2 separate regions of the Homo sapiens genome follow, and region 2 is linked to region 1. The links come from fine-mapping of genetic effects on gene expression. Tissue or cell type: monocytes after interferon gamma. Region 1 holds a variant in brackets; the other region holds the start of a gene. All regions are shown on one strand. Distances are between the middles of the regions.

The links. PIP is the estimated chance that this variant, and not a neighbour inherited with it, causes the effect.
Region 2: it holds the start of MVB12B, and the variant in region 1 is fine-mapped to the expression of MVB12B in monocytes after interferon gamma (Fairfax 2014, PIP 0.95).

What each region holds. Positions count from the first base shown.
Region 1 is chr9:126,352,137-126,360,136 of GRCh38, reverse strand. All of the region lies in intron 2 of MVB12B (multivesicular body subunit 12B), which reads right to left. Among named protein-coding and RNA genes, the nearest start is that of MVB12B, 29 kb to the right of the region's middle. The variant A/G (reference allele first, on the strand shown) is at 4,754.
Region 2 is chr9:126,320,831-126,330,493 of GRCh38, reverse strand. It overlaps MVB12B (multivesicular body subunit 12B), which reads right to left and starts at 3,665. Exons shown (of 10, transcript NM_033446.3): 1 at 3,484-3,665. The coding sequence starts at 3,564. RefSeq lists an enhancer at 2,448-3,099 and a silencer at 3,541-3,680.

The DNA of each region.
Region 1 (8,000 bases):
TGGAATTAAAATTATATACAACACAACAAAATTTGAGGGATGCAGCTAATTCAGAGTTTGGAGGGAAATTCATAGCATTAAATGCTTATGTTAGAAAAGAAGAAAGGTCTCAAATCAATGACCAAAACTTCCACCTTAAACAATAGAACATTTAACCCAAAGTAAGCAGAAGAAAAAATTTTAAAAAGTGAACACAATAAAGTTAAAAACAAGAATAGAAAAAGTCAATAAAACCAAAAGCTGGTTCTTTGAGAAGATTGATTAAATTGATAAAACTAAGACTATAACCAAAAATAAAATGGAAAGAACTAAAAAAAGAACTACTATTTGATCCAGGATGGCAGCCTGAGCAAGAAAAAAAGAGAGATGACACCAATTACCATTATTGGGAATAAAAGAGAGTACATTCTCCAGATCTTAGAAGCATTAAAAGGATAACAAGGAAATATTTTGAACAGCTTTATGCCCAGGAATTAGAAAAATTAAATTAAATGAAAAATTCCTTAGCAGACACAAACTACCAAGGCTCATTTAAGAATAGATAACCTGAATGACACTACATCTATTTAAAAAATTGAACTGTTGTTTAAAAACCTTCCCACATCCAGGCCCAGAGAGCCTCACTGGTAAAATCTGCAAATATTTACAGAATAAATAATACCAAATAAACATTAAATATTTCAGAAAACAGGCAAGAAAGGAACACTTCTCAACTCAGTATATGAGACCAGTATTACCCTAATACTAAAACCAGATATTATAAGAAAACCACAGACCAATCCATATTCCTTATGAACATACACATAAAATTTCTTAACAAAATTTTAGAAAATTGAATCTAACAATATATTAAAAGGACAATTTATTATGTCCATGGGGGATTTATTCCAGAAATGGAAGTTTGGTTTAACACTCAAAAATCAATCAGTGTATTTCATTATATTAAATGATTAAAAGAGAAAACCCAGGCTGGGCATGGTGGCTCACATCTGTAATCCTAGCACTCTGGGAAGCTGAGACTGGATACCAGCCTGGGCAACAGAGTGAGACCCTGTCTCCATAAAAAAAAAAAAAATTAAAATTAAAAAGAGAAAATCCATATGATAATTTCAATAAAAGCAGATAAAGCATGTGATGAAATTCAATATCCATGTATGATTTAAAAACCCTCTGGAAGGGTACTTTCTGTTAAATAGTATCTATTTCAAAATCCACAGCAAATGCCATATTTAAATGGTGAAACACCGAATGCTTTCCCCCTAAGATTTGGGAAAAGGCAAGAATGCTTGATTTCACTACTTCTACTCAATAGTGTACTGGATGCTCTAGCCAGTTCAGGGAGGCAACAAAAAGAAATAAGAGGCATACAGACTGGAAAGGAAGAAGTAAAATTGTTTTTATTCACACACAACATAATTATCTACATAGGAAGTTGTAAGAAATATTCAAAAACGTTATAAGAACTAATAAGTGAGTTTAACAAGATTGCAGAATACCAAGTCAATCTACAAAAATCAATTGTATTTCTATCAACAAGAATGGAGTTAAAGTAAAAATAAATACCATTTACAATAGCATCAACAATATGAAATGCCTGAAAGATTAGACAAAAGATCTGCAGACTTTACACTAAAACTAAAAGACTGCTGAGAGAAATTAAAGAGGACTTACATAAATGAAGAGATGTACCACATCCATGGATCTGAAGACTTAATATTGTTAAGATGTCAACTACCTGCGAATTGACCCACACATTTAATACAACTCCAATCAAAATCCCAGAAGGCTTTTTTTTTTTGTAAAAATTGACATGCTTATTCTTAAATTTGTATTAAAATTTGAAGGACCTAGAACGACCAAAATAACTTTGAAAAAGAATAAAGTTAAAAGACTACCTGGTGTTAAGAATTATTACAAAGCTACAGTAATCAAAGAGTATGGGTTTGGCATACAGGCAGACTTATAGATCAATGGAATAAAACAGAGTCTAGCAATGTGCCTATACATCTACGATCAGCTGATTTTTGACATAAGTGCCAAAGTAATTCAATGAAGAACAGATGATTTTTAAAGAAAGGGTACTAGAACAATTGGACAGCTATATATAAAAAATGATATTTGATCCATATATCATATCACATATAACCATTAACTTGAAATACATCATTGATCTAAATATAACAACTAAAACCATAAAACTTCCAGAAGGGATTAGAAGGAAAAATCTTGACCTTAGGGCTAGCAAAGATTTAGTAAATGTAACACAAAAAGCACTAACTATAAAAGAAAAAAAATAAACTAGACTTCATCAAATTTTAAAACTTTTGCTTTTCAAAAATACTGTTAAGAAAATGAAAAGGCAAGCTACAGACTGGGAGAAAATAGTTCATACATATCCAACAAAGGAATTGTACTTAAAATATACAAAGAACCCTTTCAACTGAATAAGACAAATAACCCAGTGAAAAGCAGGTAAAAAATTTGAACAGATGCTTCACCAAAGAAGTTATACTAATGGCAAAAAAAAAAAAGCTCAAAATCATTACTTGTTAGAGAAATGCAAACTAAAATCATAAACAAATACACATCCACTAGAATGGTTAAGATTAAAAGAATGACTATCTCAAGTGTTGGCAAGGATGTGGAAGAACTGAGACTCAGATGCTCGGCTGCTGGGATATAAAATGATACAACCACTTGGAAAATAATTTGGCAGTTTCTTTTAAAGTTAAACATGCATCTACTGTGCAATCCAACCCTTCCACTCCTAGGTATTTATCCATAGGAAATGAATGTGTATGTCCACACACAGACTTGCATATGCATGTTCACAGCAGCTTTACTTTAATAGCCCAAACTGGAAACAAGCCAAATAACCCTCAACAGGTAAACTGTCATACAGGTGTACAACAGAGCACTACTCATTAAACAAACAAACAAGGACACACTCAACAATATGAATGAATCTCAAGATCATTATTCTGAGAGGAAAAAAGCCAGACAAAATAAAGAATTTACATAAAGTTCTAGAAAATGCAACCTAGACTACAGTGACAGAAAGTAAGTAGACCAACGGTTTCCTAGAAGTGGGGTTGGGGGAGTGATGGCTTGTATTAGGCCATTCTTGCATTGCTAGTCTCAGGGAATACCTGAAACTAGGTAATTTATAAAGACAAGGGGTTTAATTGGCTCATGGTTCTACAGCCTATACAAGCATGGCACCGGCATCTGCTTGGCTTCTGGGGGGCCTTAGGGAGCTTTTACTCATGGAGGAAGGTGAAGTGGGAGCAGGCATGTGACATGGCCAGAGCAGGAGCAGCAGTGAGAGAATGAAGGCAGGTGCCACACAGTTTTAAATGATCAGGTCTCTCGAGAACTCTCTCTCTCAAGGACAGCACCCAAAGGGAATGCTAAACCATGAGAAATCCGCCCTCGTGATCCAATCACCTCCCACCAGGCCCTACTTCTACCACGGGGGATTACATTTCAACATGAGATACAGGGTGACAAAATACCCAAACTAAATCAGGGATGCATTGTAAAAGGGTAGGAGGAACCTTTTAGGGGTGATGAACATGTTCATTATCTTAACTGTGATGATGGTGTCCCAGACATTTACATACATACTCCAAAACTCATCAAATCATACACTCTAAATATATGCAGTCTATTGTATGTCAATTATAAAGCTATCAAAAAAATCCATGCGCAACAGAAACCAAACACGTACGTACAATAACAGAAATGACAAAACATCTGTGGGATACTTTAAAACTTAACTAAGAAGTACCAAAACAAGACCTAAGTACCCAAATCATGCTCCCAGATAGGAAAACTCAGTATTGCAAATATGTCGAATCCCTTCAAATCAACTTATTACCCACTGCAATTGCACTGAGGATCAAAACATAGTATTTTGTGCAATTTGACGAGTTGAATCTAAAGTTCTTTTAGAAAAAATAACATGTGGTAGTAACCAAAACAATTTTGAAAAAGAGGAGAAGGAAGGAAATAGTTCTAGCAGACATTAAAATATATTCTAAAAACCTTGAAAACATGACTCTAAGTGAAAGAAGCCAAACAAAAAAGGTCACATCTTATATGATTCCATTTATATGGAATATCCAGAATAGGCAAACCCATAGCAACAGAACACAGATTGGTGGTTGCCAGAGGAAGGCAGCGAAGGGAGAATGAGGAGCAACTTTTAATGGGTACAGGATTTCCTTTTGGGGTGATAAAAATGTTTTGGAACTAGATAGAGGTGGTGGTTGTTCAACATTATAAATGTACTAAATGCCACTAAATTGTTCACTTTAAAATGGTTAATTTTATGTTACTTTACCTCAGTTTTTAGAAAATCAACAATTTGCTAACTTCAAAAACGATGCTATAAACCTGCAATCACTGAAACAGTGGGCTATTGTAGAAGAATAGGTTAAATTGATTAATTAAAGAGAATGCGGCCTAAAAACATTCTGGAAAATCCCTCTCTTTGGGGCCCAAGCAAATGCCACCCGACAACAAGATTTCTTCCTGTGGTCAGCAGGCTGCTTCCTAAATCATTTGAAGCCAGCAGGCCTTAAGTTATAAGCAAGATGTTGCAACGCCCTCATAATGCAGTACTTTAAATTTAAGCAGAAAAGTAGCGTTGAATGTTAAGGGCATGATTTGCTGTTAGTGGTATGACTTGACCTAACCTGAGTATTGTTTATGCCCCTGGCCCTGGGCCTGCTGCAGTGTAGCTGCTGTT[A/G]TATCTACTACAACCTCTATGCACGTGGGCCTCACATCCCAGCCTGAAGGGCAAAGCCCACCCAGCATTTCCGCAGACCCCTAGGATGGGGCTTCCAGGATCAGCCCCTCACCTGCTAGCTGGAGTCTGGCTTGGGGTCATCAGGGGTCAGAAGGAGGTGGTAATAAAGTTTATTTCTTTTTCCCCTATGTCCTGTATTCCCTGCATAAGGGCCCTATATTAAGGAAAAAGAAGCTGCCGTGGGTTTCATCTGTGGGATAGGAAACGAGCGTTCTAATCAGCATAAATCTGTGCATATGCAAAGACCTCTAGCATATGACAAATGCAGCTCATCAAAACCACAGGGAGAAGACAGTGTTCAGAAAATAGCTACACAATTGGAAAAAAATAAGTTAGACTCCACTTTATACTCCACTCCAAAATAAAAATCTGATGTTTAAAAAGCCAAATCAATAAAATAGACGGTATATTAGCTGAAAATCGATGATATTTCTATTATCCTGAGGTAGTCAGGCTTTTTTGTTTCTAATTTTTTTAAGTTTTTATGTAAAAATAATTTCATATTTCAAGATCGGCTACAAAAATAATGCAAATAATTCCTATATACCCTGTCCCCAGATTCCCTAAAATGTTAACATTACTATGTTTGCTTCCCCTTCTTTCTCTGTATTTATATATGTATACATTGCATTCCCACGCATGTGTGTATATATGTGTTTTCATATCCATGTGGTCATTTACATGCTGTGTCCTTCTCAGTGTAGCATATCAGCAGGCACATGACATCTAATTGTCTCATTACTGGTAATGTTAACTTGGATCACTCGCTTACAGTGGTATCTGCTGGGTTTCCCCACTTTTATTCCTTTGTAATTAACAACTATTTTGTGGAAGATACTCTGAGACTCTGTAAATACACTGTTTCTCATAAAAATATCACCTCCTAGTTTTAGCATCTAGACAGGTCTTTTAAAGAATTAAGACCAAACAAATCATAACAATCATAAAGAAAGAAAGAAAAAGATTGACAGATATGATTACATAAAAACGAAACAAAACTTTGATAAGAGGAACAAACATATCAACAAAATGTGATACTATGAACAAGACTGAAAGATTGACAGTCCGAGAGAAAAATATCTGTAACATATATAACAGGCAAAGAACCAATACACAGAATATATAAGGGAAGCCTAGAAACCAGGAAGAGAAAGCCAGCCATATGAGCCAGCTACAAAAACTGGAAACTGACAGTCAAATGCAAAAGGCCAAGAAACATGAAAAGATGCTCAGCCTTATTGCTAATCACAGAACTGCACATTCGCAAAATGAGCTCCTAGTTTTGAAAAGTAATAAAAAGACTGACAATAAAGGGTAATGGTATGGACAAGGGTAAATAGCTATTTGGATATACTGTTTACTAGGAGTATATATAAATTGGTGAAGTATTTTTGAAAAGCTACCTGGTATAGTAATTACTGAAATTTAAAATGTACACATCCTTTGATCCACCAGCACACACCCAGAGATGTATGAATGGGAATACTCATCATCAGCATTGCTTTTCACAGACCAAAAAGAAAAATCTAAATTTTTATCAGCAGCACAGTGGTTACTAAGTTATTCTACAGTAGGGAAACATACCAGTAGAAGAATAGAGGCTGAGTGACATGTCATGACATGGAGAGACTTCTTACATATAATGTTAAGGGAAAAAGAAAAGTCAAGGCACACTATGTACTGCATAAGAATACATAATAATAACACTAAGGTAACAGCCACAACACTCACGCTACTGCCAGTCACTGTTAAATACATTACAAACATTAGCTAATTTAATCCTCAACACAATTCTATGAGGAAAGTCCTGCTATTAATCCTCACTTTTGAGACAAGACAACTGAGGCACTAAGAGGTAAAGTAACTTAACCAAGGTCACCATCAAACTATAGGGCCTCTCTCTATAAATAGGTATTTGCAGATTTGTGGGAAAAGGATTGGAGGGATACAGACCAAACTGTTAACGATAATTACCTCTGGGAAAGGGAAGGTGACAGTGCTTTATTGCTTGAATCTTTTACAGTGAGAGTGTATTTATACAGTATAATACTTGCACTATTAAAACAAAACAATACTTTACAAAGACATGAATGAATGAATGACAGAAGTGAGCTGACAGATTCCCTGGATGTCTGCCTACTTCAAGAACCAGAACAGATCCTTCCTTCCAGTCTCATCTCCCCTTCCTGGAGACATCTCATGGACTCTTCTCTTCTTCAGTAGTCTCCACCTTTCAATACTGCTCACCAGCCACAATCCTCATCTCCAGCCACATCTCCTCTTCCTGATTTGCATAATCCCTCCTGCAAACAGCCTTTTAATACTATAAATCTGGACTACGAAAATTGAGAAAGATGGCTCCGCAGCATTTTGAGTCTTCCATACTTTAAGGAGTAACTAGCAAGTATTTTACAAGCACACAATAGCATACTTCCTGCCTATATATATAATATTAAGGCTGAAACATAAATGTTTTGGAAAGATTTATGACAGGCTTAGAAATAAACAGATTCTCTGGCTAACTCTGAATTAACATAAAATTAAAGCAAGCCAGTACTTCCACTTCCAGGAATATGGAGTAAATATACTTTTCCCTAATCTTCCCAGTAAGTACAACTAAAAAAACTGGAAATTATACCAAACAAACACCAGAAGACTCTGAAAGGTGAAATAATCCGTCTGACCAGCTAGGGATCTCATGACCCAGGGAACAACATGGTGGTGAGTTCTGTGGTTTTCTTTCTGCCTCATATATCCCAGACTTGAAGCTAAAGAAATCAGCAACCCAGAAACAGCAGTAAACACAAACCAAAAACCAAAGAAACAAACAAACAAAAACAACAGAAGCCTGCTTTCTCTAGTCAGGGGGCAGCCTAGCAAGAGGGAAGATGTTTAGACAATAATTGCTCTACCCCAGCCAAATGCCACATAAAATACTGTGGCCCCACACCCACCCATGCCAACAAAGCCAGAGTAAGGATCCCAGACTTCCACATCTAAACATCTAAAAAATAATTAATACTAATTCTACACTGTCTCTTCCAGAAAACAGAAGAGGATGGAACACTTTCCAATTCATTTTATGAATCTAGTATTACCAAGCCAGACAGACAGTATACAAAAAGAAAACTACAGATCAATATCCCTCATAAATACAAACACAACATTTTTTTCTTTCTTTTTCAGA
Region 2 (9,663 bases), 30 kb after region 1:
TCAATAAAGTCTGAGTATGAGGTCCTAGAATCTGCATTTTCATCAACACCACAGGCATATTTAGTGCATTACAAACTCATTTATTTCTCTCTTCTAAAGGATCAGGGGATATTCTTTTGAATATTCTGCTCTGCTGATTAGAATCTGTTTTTTTTAAGTGTGTGTGTATGTGTGTGTGTGTGTGTGTGTAAAGAAAGAAAGAACAAACTCATGTTGACTCCTGCCACAGGTCCAACAAGATGGCCCTCCAGTCCTAAGGGAAGTATGAGCCACAAAGCTACTATGTGCAACCCCTGGGCTCCAGGCCCACAGGGCTCTCACATTTCTGCCTGGACAAGCTCTGCATCTCGCCAGAAGCGTGTCAAGTAAACCAAATGCATGCCCACAGGATGTCCCCAACAAGGGAGGTAATGTCAAGCACACTCTGCAGTGGCTTTGCCTCCCAGGCAGCCGGAGACAGGAGACCTGACTCTGGCAAACCCACTGCAACTAGTGCAGACAGCGCAGGGAAGCCACGATTCCCTAGGGCAGCCCAGCAAGCAGAAGGCCAAGGAGAGCCGGGGTTGGGGGCGGGGTGGGTTGGGGAAATGCTGGCCAGGGTGGGCCTCGGTGAGAGCCAGAGCAGCCTGGGGAGAAGGAGTCTATTCAAGAAACCCAGGCCTCCCCTCCACAACCCAACCTGCAAAGGAGGCTCTGCAACACAGTGTGCTCAGCCTAACCACATCCAGCCATGTAGTCATTTGTTATCTTCATCATCATAATAGCACCTTCGACTTTTCCCATGCTTGACTCCAGCACCATCATTATTTTGCAGTGTGGCAAGGATGTCTCCCTTTGAGTATGGAGCACTTCCAGCAAACTCAGACAGAGGGGCCTATGCCATTTGGATTCTGATCCCCCCAGGAGAAGATCCTCCATGAAATGGATAGAGACTACACTTCTCCCTTACCCCTTCCAAGGCCCTGAGAGGGCATCCAGCAGTGTGCTCACATGGTGGCGTGGTTCTGTAACATGTACAAACACAGGATATTCTTGTATTCTTTTTCTTAATGCTCTCCCCGCAACAAACTGTATAAACATCGGACCTGAAAAAAACACCATGATCTGCTGCTGGATGCTGAATCGCACACTTAAATTTCATGAGGACCGCCACCTCCTGCAGTGCCAAGTGCAGTCACATACATTAGCTCCTTCAGCTCTTCTTGACTGATTAGCTTTATGGGGTAGGCTTTGTTCTTAAGACACTTTTACATTACAGAAATGGGGATTCAGAAAGGTTCTGTGACTCCCCTAGGGTCACCTGGGGTCCAGGAGGTAGCCTGAGAGTCAAACTCAAGCTCCTAAATCCAAGTCCAGTGTTCTTTCTACTATACCATCACTTCCTGGTTGTCCCGTTGAAGACTAAATAATAGGCCAGGCGTGGTGGCTCATGCCTGTAATCCCAGGAATTTGGGAGGCCAAGGTGGGAGGATTACTTAAGCTCTGGTGTTCAAGACCAGCTTGGGCAACATAGCAAGACCCCAACTCTACTAAAAATAATAATAATTTAAAAAAACAGCCGAGCGTGGTGGCAGGCACCTATACTTGGGAGGCTGAGGTGGGAGAATCGCTTGAGTCCAGGAGTTCAAGGCTGCAGTGAGCCATGATGGTACCACTGCACTCCAGCCTGAGTGACAGTGAGACCCTGTCTCAAAAACAAACAAAAACCAAAAAAAAAGCAGACAGAAAGAAACTCTAAAAATAAATAAATAAGCTACTCCTCTCATTCATCCGTTAACAAACCTCTCATAATGACCCCTACCGTTTACTGACTTCTTGCCATGTAGCAGGCACTGAGCTAGACTTTTCTTGCAAAATTTCATTTACATCACGCCATAATCCCATGAGATGAATACTATCATTAGTTTCACTCTACAGATGAGGAAACTGAAACTCAGAAAAGTTCAATAATTTGTCCAAGGGCACAAAGTAAGTAGGAAAGCCAAGACTTAAGCTGAGGGCTAATTCTAAACTCCCTGCACATAACCATGGCACAACATTCCAGTTGGAAGTGGTAAAAGGTCCCTAGCAGGATGGAGACAGGGCAAGAAAAATGCCTTGAACCTAAATTAGGAGTGTGACCTAAAGCCTAGAAGGAAGGAATGAAAAATATGGATTACAGAAGGTAAGTTTAGGTTTAAATGAACCAGTAATCGCCACGTCAACTGCTTCCCATGGGGCTTGGAGCCCGGGTCCCAAGCAGAAGCCTCATCTCTCTGAGGCCCTATTTAAAGATTCTGAGCATGGTACAGTATCTCCAAGGACCCCACATGATTTCTAACAAGCAAGAAAGGTGTCACCATCTACTGTAACTAAACATCCTAGCACATTGAGTTTTTCAGTTAGTCAAGGCTTCACAGAGCTTATTTTTTAACTCTCTAAGCTTTCCTGGTGCCGCTGATAAGATTTCCCAGCCCTGTTAAAACGAGATGAGATCCAGCCAGCTGTCGAGAAATGTACAATGAGATTATACTGAGAAGGAACCACGAGAGACAAAGGCCCCTAAGAGGAGCTGGTCTGCTGTCTGCTTTTGTGGCAGCAATCGGAGTGGGCTCTGGTTCTTGGGTGGGGGCAGGAAGCAGGGAAGGGGCAACCACCATTTGCCTTTTGCCCTCCTGTGGTCTTCCTCAGTGCCTTGTGCAAGAGGTGTTGAGGGGCAGGGAACAGAAGAGTCTCATCTTTCATGGTGAGAAGGGCTGCTGATTTAGAACAGTTGTGTGTTGGTAACAAAGAGGACAAAAGATGCTCTTGGGTCTACCCCGTTCCCTGGTGCCTGCCTCTGAGGATGTGATGTCCCCTGGTGCCATGCCTCAGCTCTTGTCCCAGCCCCTGCTCCTCCCGTCTCGCTGGTGTTGGAGTCACTGTAGGGTGCTCGACGTGCCCACCATGTTCCTGGATGGGTGCTCTGGGTCTCGGGTACCCAGGCTGGGCATGTCACCTTCCAGACAGGTGCCTGAGGGTTTAGGTGTCCTCTCTGCTGTGCCCAGGTCACAGAGGCAGTGATGCTCCTGGGGCAGGTGCACGTTGGTCTGCACCCACGTGACCAGAGAGAGCAGGACCCCAGGCCAGGCCGGTCAAACGATTGACTGTTCCCAGTCTGTGCCCAGGTGGGCCGCCTCCCTCTCACGCGGGCAGAGGTGGCTCTCGGCGCCCCTCACCTGCCCGGGCCTTGGGGGCGCTGCTGGCACTCGGGTCCCCCAGCTTCTCCCGCCTCTCGCCGCCAGGCCGAGCCCGGGCACCGGCAGCCGCGGCGCGCTCGGGGCTCTGCAAAGGCCGCCCGGGCCTGTCCCCGCCGCGGGCCGGGCACGGAGCCCGCAGGCCTCGGCGCGGCCCGGCTCCTCCCGTCCGCCCGCCCCTCGGCCGGGGGCCCGCGCCCGCCCGCCCGCCCTCCCGGCTGCAGGGCCGGCTCCGCCGAGCCTCCGCGGCGCCCGGGCCTCACTTAACTGTTCCCCGCTGGGGCGGCGGCGGCGGTGGCTGCGGCGGCGGCGGGTCCCGGCTCCGTCTCACGCAGAAGCAGCTTCTCATCGCCCGGGCGGCGCGGGAGGGGCCGGGCCCGGGGCCCAGGCGGCAGGAGCCGGCGCCGCAGCTCGAGCGCGAGCCTCACCGAGAGCGGCGGCGGCGGCGGCGGCGGCGGAGGGGCGGGGCGCGGCCTGGCGGCGGCGGCGACAACGGCAGTGGCGGCGGCGGCTCCCTCCGCGGGCCGCGGCGGCGGGCCGGGCTCCGGGCCTCCCGGCGCTGGCGCTGGTTCAGGATCGGGGGAGGCGCCCGGCGCCCGAGGCTGGCTCGGGCGGGAGGAGGGAGAGGGAGCCCTGGCGTCCCGAGCCCGCGCCGCCGCCCCGGCCGGCACCCCGCCTCCCCAGCCTCCCCCTCGACCCAGCCCGTCAGCCGCAGGCAGGGCCCCGGTGCGCCCACCCGGGCCTCCCCGAGCCCGCCGGCGACCCCAGTCCAGCCTCAGGCCCCCGGGAGCCCACGGCCTCTAGAGCCTGGGGCATCGATGGTCCCCGCCCCCAGGCTGGTCTTTTCCAGGGACCCTCAGCCCACTTAGCTCTCGTAGGCCTCGCTGTACGCAAGACCGGTCTTCCGCTCGGCTGCAGATCCCTGGAAGCCCCCAGGCCCTCAGGCTAGAAGTTGGACCCTTCTAAGGACTCTCCGCCCACCCAGCCATTCTAGGCTTCACTGAACCCTAGAATCCTTCAGCTCATCTTCCCCCACCCCCCAGCTCACCTAAGGTGAGCTCAGCCAGTCGTCTCAAACTAACCCCAATTGCCTAGCAATTCTCTTATATTAGTTAGATGATTTATCCCCAGAAGCCTAGAATCAGGTTTATGGGGCCAGCCTCAGGCAAGCATCTAGAAGAAGTTTTTAGCAGGAGTCCTACCCTGCAGTACTTGGGGAAGGCATAAGCCAAGGATAAAATGGAGCTGGATGGTTGGGGGAGGGTCCAGAGCTTGACCCTCAGCTAGAGTGGCTGGTAGGAAAGGCGGACTCTGCGCCTTAACCAACCATGCCCCCCACACCGCCCAGCCAGGCACCCCAGGCAGAGGCCAGCGTGTGCAAGATTTGAAAGGTTTCCTGCCAGGAGGCTGGAGCATTCGTTAGGACTTGAGGACCATGCAGGAGTGATCAGCATTGATTTGCTAATGCATTGAGTCTCATTTTCACACATTCTAGGCTTTTCCATAATAGCTGTTTGATCCTAAAGAGAAGGGTGCCAAGCAGAATGGGCTGTCGGGGGAAACATCCTGTAGGGAAGCCATGCACGTGTGCATTCCCAGTGTCTTCACTACTCAGAAATGCCATGGGTTCAGATGGCTTTACAGCAAGCCTTATCCTCCCATCAGGGCACAGATCATCCCTATGTTACTTAAACTGTTACACAGGAAAAAATAAACAAAAGAAACAAAAATTTTTATTTCATTTCCCAAGTTTAGCATAACCCTGATACCAAAATCCAACAGACAATACCAAAAAGAACTGCAGATGACTAACCTAGAACACGAGTCCCCAGAGAATTTAATATTTATTTTTTGAAAATGGGCTTCTGTGGGCAACTTGAGAAAGTGCTGCATGCCGTTTATAGTGTACCTTTTGGAGAATCACGATAAGTATTCGTATATTAAGGAAGGCCTCTGTGAAGTCCAGGAGTAAAGAAACCTGTTTGGTTTGTTTAACCTGGCATTTCCCAAACTCATCTGAGCCAGGACCACCTTCTAAAGCTCACTGATAAATCCTCAATATGTGAATCTGCACTATATATTTAAGTATATAATAGTCGTAAAACTATTAAATACAATTTTAGCCATTTGAATCCAGTTTACTATTAAAGCAACTGAAAACCCACCATGATCAAGCAAGATTTATTCCAGAGGCGCAAGAAAAATCCAACATTAGGGAATTTGTAAATGCATTGCATTGTTAAAGGAAAACAAATTACAGGATATTATCAATGGGATAGATGCTTTAAAAGTATTTTATAAACTTCAAAACTAATGACCCATAAATTTCTAAAAACTCTTAGTAAACTATTATAGGAAGAAAGTTTAAACTTTTAACATGACAAAGTTTATCAGAAGCCATCAACAAACATATTTAATGGTGAAACACTAAAGGTATTCTCATGTAAGTCAGTCAAAAGGATGCCTGCTATAATGGCTATAGAATAAAGCCAATGCAATAAGATAAGAAAAATAAATAAGAAATATAAATATTAGAAGGGAAGAGATAAAATTGTCATTATTTGCTTATGATTTAAGTGTTTCCCAAAAAGTAAAAATAAAAAAAATCAACTAAAAATCATAGAGACTTTGGTAAGGTGGTCAGTTATAAGATAAACACCAAAATCAATGGTTTTCCTAAATGTTAAGGGAGAAGCCTTCTCCTTCCTTCTTCTTCTTCTTCTTCTTCTTCTTATTATTATTATTATTATTATTATTATTATTCTTTTTTTTCTTCCTTACCCTGTCTTATGGTATTGAAGGGAGAAGCCTTCTTTTCCATATAGAGGGACTTCCATTAGAATAAGACTTCTGGCCTCTCTCCACTCTAAGGGAAGATGAGTGAGTTTGGAAAAAGTGGACAAGAATAGATGCTTCTGAGTTCTCTTTTTGGATTTGGCTGACTGCAGAGAGCAAATATTTCCATGCGCTCTCACTGTGGGTTAAGTGAACCTGTTTCAGGGACAGAGTGATACTATTCTCCTGCACCACCCGCCACTACACAAATAAATCTACTCAATTCAGGGAGAAATATAGCAAGCCCACTTAGCTACAGAGCAAAAGCTACTTTTTCCAGTCAGCTTCATTAAAAATTAAGGTAGTATTTTTGTCTTATGTCTCTTTCCTGTGTCTATGCCCCAGTTTGTTCCAAACTTAGAATAGGGAGGGAGGTATTACTTACAGAGACCTCCAAATACAACACTAAATACCAGTTATTTCCATTTAGGAAGTATGATGGAAAAAAAGCATATTCACATTAGCAATGAATACTATAAGGCATATACTAGGCATAAGCTTAACAAGAAATGTGAAGGTCCATGGAAAGAAAACTACAAACCTGACTGAGGGACATAAAAGAAGATCTTAATAGTCGGAAAAATATAACAAATCCCTGGGCAGGAAGTCTCAACAGTGCAAAGATGCTGTGTCTCCCCAACTCACTTTATAAATTTAGTAAAATTCAGATCAAGAAACCACTATGATCTGAGGGGTGAGGTGAGATGGAACATGATGAAATTATTTTAAAATTTACCTTGATTGGCGTGAGTGTGTTGGCTCATGCTGGTAATCCCAGTACTTTGGGAGGCCAAGGTGGGAGGATTGTTTGGGGCCAGGAGTTTGCGACTAGACTGGGCAACATAGTGAGACCCTGTCTCTAAAAAGATTTTTTAAATGAGCCAGGTATGGTGGTGTGTGCCTGTGGTCCCAGCTACTTGGGAGGCTGTGGTGGGAGGATTGCTGGAACCCAGGAATTTGAGGCTACAGTAGGCTATAATCACGCCACTGCACTCCAGCCTAGGCAACAGAGCAAGATCTTATCTCAGAAACAAACAAACAAACAACAACAAAAAAAAACTAACAAGAAACTTATCTTGATAAATAAGTATGAGGAAATACCCATGAAATTTTTGAAATGGAAGAATAATGAGAAAATATTGCTCTAACAAATATTACAATATAATGTAAAACTTCAGAAGAAACTATGGGCCACTAGTGTAAGAATATACACTTTTGTCATATATTAAGTTCCGTTTATAAATGCTTTGTTTTTATCCATTGATCTATTTGTGTGTATAGATATAGATATAGATGTAGATATAGTTTTTTTTTTACTTTAAGTTCTGGGATACATGTGCATAACATGAAGGCTTGCTACACAGGTATACATGTGCCATGGTGGTTCATGGCACACATCAACCCGTCCTCTAGGCTTTAAGCTCCGCTTGCGTTAGTCATTTATCCTAATGCTCTCCCTCCCCTTACCTCCCACACCCCAACAGGCCCCAGTGTGTGATGTTCCCCTCCCTGTGTCCATGTGTTCTCATTGTTCAACTCCCACTTATGAGTGAGAACATGTGGTGCTTGGTTTTCTGTTCCTGTGTTAGTTTGCTGAGAATGCGTATATTTTTAAATAACTATTCCTATAAAAATAGGTATATCCATTGTATATTATACATCTATTGTATATAATAGGAATATCCATTTTAATCTATTGAGCTATTTGTATATAGGTATACAAATAAGGCATACAAATTTGTATATTTCATACACCCTACTCCAAACCATATTTTCTGGCCTAGACCACTCTAGTAATTTCCTTACTGGTCTCCTGGCTTTGCCCTACCCAAACAATGGAAAGTAGCAACCAGAGCAATCATTAACAAATAATAATAGGCCAGGTATGGCGGCTCATGCCTATAATCCCAGCATTTGGAGAATGCTGAAGCAGGAAGATCGCTTGAGGCCAGGAGTTCAAGATCAATAAACATAGTGAGACTCCATCTCCACAAAAAATAATAAATTAGCCAGACATGGTGGTGTGAACCTGTAGTCCTAGTTACTTGGGAAGCTGAGGCAGGAGGATCACTTGAGCCCAGGAATTTGAGGCTATAGTGAGCTATGATTGTACCACTGCATTCCAGCCTGGATGGCAGAGAGACCCTGTCTCTAAAAAAATAAATAAATACTTTTTTAAAATAAAAAAATAATAATAAGTGCTGGGTGCAGTGGCTCACACCTGTAATCCTTGCATTTTGGGAGGCCAAGATAGGAGGATCGCTTGAGCCTAGGAGTTTGAGACCAGCCTGGGCAGCATGATGAAACTCCATCTCTATGAAAAATAACAAAAATTAGCTTTGTATGGTGTGGCACACCTGTAGTTCCAGCTACTCGGGCAGCTGAGGTAGGAGGATTGCTTGGGCCTGGGAGGTTGATGCTGCAGTGATCTGTGATCATGCCACTGTACTCCAGCTTAGGCAATAGAGTGAGACCCTATCTCAATAAATAAATAAATAATAAATAAAACAAAATAAATAAATAATAAAAATGCAGCAGGTGCTCCCTTGCTTAAAGCCCTCCAGGGACTTTCCATAAAATAAAATAAGATTTAAATGCTCCAGCACAGCCTTCAAGGTCCCATGCTATATGGACCCAGCTTCCCCTCCATCCTCCTCTCAGCCATTCTAACCAACTGGCTTCCTTGTAGATCCTTAAACATCAAAGCTCTTTCTTCCCTGGGTGACTCTGCCTACAGCACTCTTTTCAGTCTTATAGGGTCTGGGCTCTTCTCATCCTTGAGCTCTCAGCTCAAATGTCACCCTCTTGGAGGCCTTCATGGGTCATCTATCTAAGTAGGTCCCTTTTATTTCCATACCCCACTAGTTCATTTCCTACTTATCACTCATCACAATTTGGAACCATCCACTATTTGTTAACCTGTTCAACTGTCAGTCTTCCCAGCATACAAATAGCTCCACCCAGACAGGAGACATATCTGTTCTGTTCACTAAGCATAAGTGTGCCACACATACTAGCCCCTCAATAAACATTTTCTAGATAGATGTGTCAACATTTAATATGTGTGTACCCTTTGTCCATGTCTAATAATTTATCCACAATAAACAATCAGACAAGTGCACACAGATGTATGTTCAAGGATAATTATTTCAGCATTGCTTATAATGAGAAAATATTGGACATAGCCTAAATGTCTAGCAATAGATTGAGTCATTTAAAAAAGCTGTACTGACATAGAAATATATCATGGTATTTTGTTAAGTAAAAAAGAGGTTCTAGAACAGAATGCATTTATTATATGAGCCCATCAATTTTATATGTATTTGTGATTATTTATATGTATTCATATATGCATAAAATTCTTGAAAAAATATATACCCAATGTTAACTGTTTAACAGTGGCTACGTCTTGGGAATGGTTTACACAGAGACTATCATTTTTTATTTTAGCATATTTGCATCACTTAGGAATATGGATACAAATAACAGAAAATTCAACCAACAGTAGCTTGAACAGTAGGTGTTTATTTTACTGGCCAGTAATCATCTTCAGTCTTCTTGTTAAGAAAGAATGAAGCCATTAAGAATACATGTCCATCCACACTTCTTTGAC